Linked DNA regions of Homo sapiens. The protein of the gene in region 1 interacts with the protein of each later gene in a pairwise test. Each region holds a gene or a part of one and is shown on either strand. Other genes may lie near its edges.

Region 1 (3,927 bases):
ACTGGGCCTTTTCTAAAAATCCCCAGAGTGCTAAGTGTTAGACCCCCCCTAGGTAATCCTTTGCCAGCAGTCTGTGGCCTCCTAGCTACTCTTACTACTCAGTCCCCCTCTGATGTTCAGGTCTCACTGGCCTGCACAGATATTTGAACACACTCCAGGCAACCAGCCAGCTCATTTCATACCTCTAGTGGGCTTGCTGATGTTTTCGAAAAGGAGAAGCCCTTGCTAGCCGTGTTTATGTGGCTTACTGTTTCCTACCTCCCATCAGCAGACTTGCACACACGTCCAAGGATTGATTCTGGTGTCTGAAATGATCTTTCGAGGTGAGACAGAGGCTTTTTCTTTGGGCATCTAGTTAACCAACCTGTCAGTGTCAGACTACTAGTATAACCTGGCCAAATTTAGAACAAACCAACCCCCATTGGTACTTCAAAACGGTGACAGTGTTAGCATTCTGCTGTGCCCCTGTGCCAACTCTTCTAGTACTCGCCGTGCACATACCTTCAAGAAACCTCTTCCTTCCCATCTAGGACCTAATCCGGAGAGACATCCTGTACTACAAAGGCCGCATTGACATGGATAAATATGAGGTAGTTGACATTGAGGATGGCAGAGATGATGACTTCAATGTCAGCATGAAGAATGCCTTTAAGCTTCACAACAAGGAGACTGAGGAGATACATCTGTTCTTTGCCAAGAAGCTGGAGGAAAAAATACGCTGGCTCAGGGCTTTCAGAGAAGAGAGGAAAATGGTACAGGAAGATGAAAAAATTGGTAAGTGACCTGAGAGTAGAAAGAAGAACATGGCTATGAAGAACATAGGAGGTTTGAATTGGTTTCCATTTTCTTGGAGTCAGAGGGAAGATTTCTGTTGCAAACTGACTTAAGCTACTTTGGTGGTTCCTTATTATTAGGTTCTTTTTGGTAAGTACCAATAGCTTCCATTAGTCAGTGGTAGGTTTGAACTATAGGTTGTCCTCCCCTACTAGCTAAGAATATCACACTGAAAGCCAGCCTCAGGCTTGATTCTCCCAAACATACATTTATTAGCAAATAAACAAAAATCAGTTATACAACCTGTTCTGTAATCTTCATAAAGCCTGAGCTCTCTGTCATTAGGTATATAGTTTGTACTCCTGATTAGGATACTTCAGATGTTAACTAAATCCCCCTAGACTGTAGATTCAAATAATATGCACATACACTTCACACTTTCTGTGTGGAAGTATTTAAAGTAAATTATAGAAAATATAACAGGACTTAAAACCATGACCATTTTCATGATTTCAAATCACACTGAAACATACTTTTTTGCCTTACAATAAGTTGTTTCTCTTTTCCAGTGGGGATATAGATAGTAGAGATATTTTTCATGTTGCTTCCCAACTGTGGGATTTAGACGCCATTGGCTATAGCTTTGTGACTTATAAAGTACTGTCTGGTCTCTTGCTCATGGTCCTGCCTTTCTGTCATAAAAAATACCAAGCAACCAGACTTGTTAATTCCCTGAGAAGACATACAGTTTCTGTCTTTGCCCTATTGCTTATGGGAGTGAAATTGTACTTTAGAAGGCCTGAAAGCTCAAGTTTATGGAAATTGTCTCTAGAAAAATGGGCCTACTCATTGAATCCTGGTGCAAAAGGGTTCTCTTATCCTTCCATGTGGGCGATTGAAATTATCCAGAGGTAAGAAAGGATGGTCAGAAAGACAAATCTAACTCCAGTCTTCTCCTCAGAACTTGGGTAGAGTGCAAATTAATAACTCACTTTGAGTCTCATTGGAATCAGACTGCTTTCAGTATGTGGACACTCCATTGGGACATGATGTGGAGTGGCATATAAATGTTGCTGGCTACTTCTCTCAATAGCAAGCAGCAGCAGCCACTGACCTTGCCTAGGCTGTTAGAGTTATTAAAGGAATGGTCTTAGTGTTCAGACCCTGAATCAATTAGAAGGCCCCTGCCATTCCCATTGGCTCTAACACAATGTCTCCCACACAATGCCCTAATAAACCTGTGACTTTATCTGCTTCTAATAGAAAAGCTTCTAGAAATTACTTTCTGAACAGGCATATGTTCATCTTTAAAAATGTTGAGGTTTTTTTTTTTTGGTTTGATAATAACAGTAAATCACTTCCATTGTAGGAAATTTAGGGAAAAAGCAACAGAAAAGTACAAGAAAAAAAAAAAACACATGAACATACTCAGTAATAACTTTCATAAACATTTTGATATATATTTCCAGCCTTTTTTATGTGTCTAATTAGAAAAATCAAGGTGACTGAATCTTTTTTCTTTCTCTCCCCATACCTGCCTCTCTATAGTGGATAGATATAATTTTGTATCCTCATTTTCACTCATCATTATATCATTAGCATTTCTATCAGATCACTTCATATTTTTAATCATTATTTTATGAGGGTCATATAGTTTTATCATAGCTTTTTTAAACTTTTACTTTTTAATTATAAAATTAATGCATGACCATTATAACCATTTAAACAAATATGGAAATATATAAAGAAAACTTAGCATTCCTTCCCCTTCTCTGTCACTTCCATACTGAATGAAATAACCAGTGTTAACAGTGCAGTATGCATCTTTCCATACTTATCTCATGTCCATATAAACATATACAAACATAATACTTTTATATTTACAAAAATTATATTATATATATTACCTTGTAGGTTGCTTTTTTAAACTTAATTTATCATAAGTAACTCCCCAGATAAATAATATAGAATCTAACTATAACCCCTTGTATCAGTTAGGGTTCAACCAAAGAGGCATAACCTGTAGGAGATATATCATACCACTGCTGAAAATTGCATTACAAGGAATTGGCTTATGTGATTGTGAATGTTGACTAAGTGGCTCAGAATTCCATAGAGCAGGCAGTCAGAAATGGAGGATCACAGGCAGGCTCAAACCCATGGACATAGGCCAAAGCTGTCATCTACAGGCAGTCAGGAAGAGAAGCTCATGAGAAGGATGAAGTGGCACAGACATGGGCTAAAGCTGTGGTGCACAGGTAGAATTTCTGCCCTTTCTGTGTGAGACCTAGGCTCTACTTTTAAGGTCTTGCAACAGATTCAGTCAGGTCCATCCAGATTATCTAGGATATTGTCCCTTATATAAAGTCAACTGATTAGGGCCTGTATTAGCCCATGTTCACAGTGCTATAAATACCTGAGACTGGGTAATTTATGAAGAAAAGAGGTTTAATTGACTCACAGTTCTGCAGGCTTAACAGGAAGCATCACTGGGAGGCCTCAGGAAATTTAGAATCATAGTAGAAGGCAAAGGGGAAGCAAGCATCTTCTTCACATAGTGGCAGGAGAGAGAGAGAGCAAGAGGGAAGTGCCACATACTTTTAAACCATCAGATCTCGTGAGAACTCACCCACTATCATGAGAACAGCATGGGAGAAATTCCCCCCATGATCCAATCACCTCCCACTAGGCCCCTCCCCCAACACATGGGGATTACCATTCCACATGAGATTTGGGTGGGGACACAGAGCCAAACCGTATCAGGGGCTTTGATTATATCTGTAAAATACCTTCATGGCAACACCTACATTAGTGAGGACTACAGTCTAGTCGAATGGGCACATCAATAAATTCATCACACTTTTCTTATAAACAGCTGTATAACATTCCATAATATTATGTAATAACCACAGTCATCTCTTGGTATGCACGGGATATTGGTTCCAGGACTCCCGTGCATATCAAAATCCATGGATGCTCAAATCCCTTATATAAAATGATATAGTATTTACATATAACCTATGTACATCCTCCATATACTTTCAATCATTTCTAGATTATTTATAATACCTAACACAATGTAAATGCTATGTAAATAATTGTTATACTGTATTGTTTAGGGAATAAAAACAAGGCAAAAATCCATATGTGTTC
Region 2 (3,927 bases), on another chromosome or scaffold:
ATGAATTAACACCACTTGCAATGACCTGGATGAGATTACAGACTATTATTCTAAGTGAAGTAACTCAGAAATGGAAAACCAAACATCGTATGTTTTCACTGATATGTGGGAGCTAAGCTATGAGGACGCAAAGGCATAGGAATGACACAATGAACTTTGGGGACTTATGGGAATTTATGGGAAAGAGTGTGGGGGGTGAGGGGTAAGACAACAAATATGGTGCAGTGTATACCTCTCGGTGAAGGGTGCACCAGGATCTCACAAATCACCACTAAAGAACTTACTCATGTAAGCAAATACCACCTGTACCCCAATAACTTATGGAAAAATAAAAAAAAATAAGACTGAGGACAGGCATGGATGGTCAGAATCAGATTCATTCTCTAAAAAAAAAAAAAGCATGCACTGCATTTTAAAAAAAGTAAAATTTCTATATACAACTTGGTAGTTGAAAGATGCATTATGAGAAAGACAGGAAAGATAGGAAAGAAGCCCAAGAGTTTGAGGCTGCAGTGAGCTATGATTGTGTAACTGCATTCCAGCCAGGGTGACACAGTGAGACTCTGTCTCTAAAAATAAATAAATAAATACATTCTAAAAACTTGTATACTACCCTCTTTTCCATCCCCTCCTCCCCAAGAGAAAACTTACATACTCACATACACACATTTAATTCTTGCGTTATTTCTACAACTCTTAAATGATTTATGCAAAAATCCTGAAGAAACTAGGAGCCCTTCATCCCTTGTTCCCAACCTCCTGAGTCAAGACCATTTCTTGATGTGATTCATGCCAAACACTTAAGACACTGCTGTATCTTGGATGGGTCAAATCTAGTTAACCATTTTTTTTTGTTTGTTTGTTTTGAGACGGAGTCTCATTCTGTCGCCCAGGCTGGAGTGCAATGGCGCCATCTTGTCTCACTGCAACCTCCGCCTCCTGGGTTCAAGCAATTCTCTGCCTCAGCGTCCTGAGTAGCTGGGATTACAGGTGCCTGCCACCACGCCTGGCTAGTTTTTTTTTATTTTTAGTAGAGATGGGGTTTCACCATGTTGGCCAGGCTGGTCTTGAACTCCTGACCTTGTGATCGGCCCACCTCGGCCTCCCAAAGTGCTGGGATTACAGACCTGAGCCCCAACGCCTGGCCAAATCTACTTAATCTTTAATCCAAAAGTAGAGAGAAGCAACTGGGGGCCTTCCATGCAGAAAGTGGGCTCAGGAGGCTAAGTAAAAGAATATGAATATTTATATCCAAGGCACTCAGGAACTTTTACACAGATGCAAGAAACTTATGTCAAAGTGGCCACAAGATTGTTTAATAGGAGACAGACAAATGAAACTCTGTGTTTACTGCTAGACACCAAACCTTTGTGTGAAATCTTGAATTTATGGGGAGGGAGAGTAGCCTGTACCTGTCTGTTATTTTCCTAATCCCAACCCCTCATTCTTGAACTGCAGGAGATTGAGCCCGTTTGGGCTTCGGTGACCCCACCACTGGGGTATGTTTATTTGATGGTTGATTTTGCTGTATTCTCTACTTCTTTTCCCATCTTCTAATCATTTTTTTAACACACATGCTGACTCTTTTCCTATCCCTTCTCCTTTTCTTGGGAAAATACAATGAATAAAGATTTATTGGTACTGAAGTTGTTTAAAAAAAGGCAGGAAAGAGGTTTCATATTTTTAGTTAGAGCAGGGCAGTAGAACTAACAACCGAGGTGAGAACCAGATTATTTTGTCCAGAGAGCTAAAGTTCTAACTACCATCATAAAGTATAGCTAGGTAACATTGTACAGCAAGCAAAATATAAAATAAGCTTGCAAAGAGCACTGCATAAAGTTAATATAATCTGCTGCTGAGGTGCTCACTATTATCTATAACGTATTACCAAAAGAGAATAGGTAAGAACCTAAAAATCAGAATATAAGGCCAGCTATAGCTGCAGAAGAGGTGGAGGTCTTTCTCTTTCACATTTGAAGTAATAGCTTAAAATCTAAGATGTAAAAAAAAAAATCTTAAAAATTTTTGGAGGGTTACATAATATCGGGAAAGATGTTTAATCTTTCGACCTATCTTTGTATGGCTCAATCAGTTTACTCTTTAAAGATTGTGTGGTAAAGAATTTAACCTTGACCGAGGAGAGGTCTGGTCTTTACACTCAGCTTCTGGGAGTGATCTCTAGGTCCTTGGAATTTCACGCCTAATAGGAATGTCTTTGTTGTCCATGGACTTTGGGCACCAGAGACAGTCTAACAATGTTAGACTGCAGTTCAGGAATGAGGGAAAGGGATCAGGAAAAGAACAGACAGGTATAGGCTACCCTCCCTCTCTCCCCATTAATTCAAGATTTCACACAAAGCTTTCGTGTCTAGCAGTAAACATGGACTTTCATTCATCTGTCTATTAAATAATCTTGTGGCCACTTTGACATAAGTTTTTTTGCACCTGCATAAAAGTTCCTAAGTGACTTGGATATATACTCATACTCCCTTTCTTGGCCTTCTGACCCCACTTTCTACATAGAAGGCCCCCAATTGCTTCTCTCTACTTTAGGATTAAAGATTACAGGTCAGCCACACTGGCAGTAAGTGTTTGAGTCCCAATAAAAGCTCTGGATACCAAAGGCTCAGGTGAGCATCCCCAGCTGGCATTACTCCATGTGTGGTATCACAGATTGACGCCAGAAGGGTGACATGTCCATGTCTCCAAAGAGAGAGGACAACAGAAGTTCCTCATTTGTTACTTCTGTTAGACTCTGCCCTATGCACTTTCTCCCTTGGCTGACTTTAATCCGTATTCTTTCCTTGCAATGAACAATAATCATGAGTATAACAGCTTTCTGTGAGTTCCATGAATGCTAGTAAATTATTAAACCTGAAGGTCATTTTAGGATCTCCTGAATTTGCAATTAGGGTCAGAAATGAGCAATTTTGTGGAGTACTCCACATTTGTAGGTGGCTATTTTTTGCAGTTGGCTAAAACTCCTTACAGTTGGTGTCAAAAATAAGATTTTCTAGAAAGACCCTGACTCACTGAAATACATGGCTTAGGAAGTGAAGAGAGGGTGTGGGATGATGAACCTTTGATCCCTGAGTGAAGACAGTGTCAACCACAGCATGGAATTGCTTCTTTACTGTGATTAGTTAATGGAGATAATTCCCAAAAAGTTATCTCACTGGATGCATAAGGAGATGCAAAATATAAAGAAAGAAGTTAAACACACAATCTCTTGGTTATTGTTATCTATGCTAGCTAAAATGAAGGTAAGGGATACAATCCTACTCTAAATGAATAGGAATAGACTGTGCAGGAGGAACTTGCTAAACTAGTATTACCAACGGCAATCTGAATCAGCACAGTGGCCAAACCTTACAACTCTTTAAAAGGTGAAAAAGTTTGGGTATAAATAGAGAGAAGGAAGAATGGTAGCTGAGGGTAAAGGAATGAATGGATAGGTTATGCAGTAAGGGAAATAATACTGCATTGGTATCTCCAAAGAGGTTCAGAACAAGAGATGACATTGTTTCTTAGCTCAACTGTAACAGATGCTTGAAAGAGTGAAGTCATATGTTGCTGAGACCACTCTTATTTTTGGAATCCAACAAGCCTGCAAACCTGAGTAGCATCATTCTGGGAGACATTCTGGTCTGTTAATGTCTGAGAAGGACTCTAAGAACGTGCCAGTATCTTTTGACTTTTATTTTTTAGGTTATGGCTAAGTGTATTGGGAAATTCAGTTAAAGCCTCCTCAGGATATAATGTTAATAGAAAATGACTGGCCTGAGGAAGAAATGCACTTAGGTAACCATCAGCTAATTTCTATGATATATAGTTCTGTACAAACATATCAATAGTGGTAGATTAAAGGTGAGAAATTAGTAACTTAATACAAAATTATGAAAATGTATGTAATGGCTTTAGTGGATG

What was found.
Region 2: the proteins of ARHGEF9 (region 1) and GPHN interact in a two-hybrid assay, tested with the Homo sapiens proteins (one study listed by BioGRID).

Annotation. Positions count from the first base shown.
Region 1 is NC_000023.11:63,652,341-63,656,267, reverse strand, and holds part of ARHGEF9 (rho guanine nucleotide exchange factor 9), read left to right. Parts: intron 1-530; coding exon 531-774; intron 775-3,927. UniProt on the Homo sapiens protein: Acts as a guanine nucleotide exchange factor (GEF) for CDC42. Promotes formation of GPHN clusters.
Region 2 is NC_000014.9:66,917,005-66,920,931, reverse strand, and holds part of GPHN (gephyrin), read right to left. Parts: intron 1-3,927. UniProt on the Homo sapiens protein: Microtubule-associated protein involved in membrane protein-cytoskeleton interactions. It is thought to anchor the inhibitory glycine receptor (GLYR) to subsynaptic microtubules.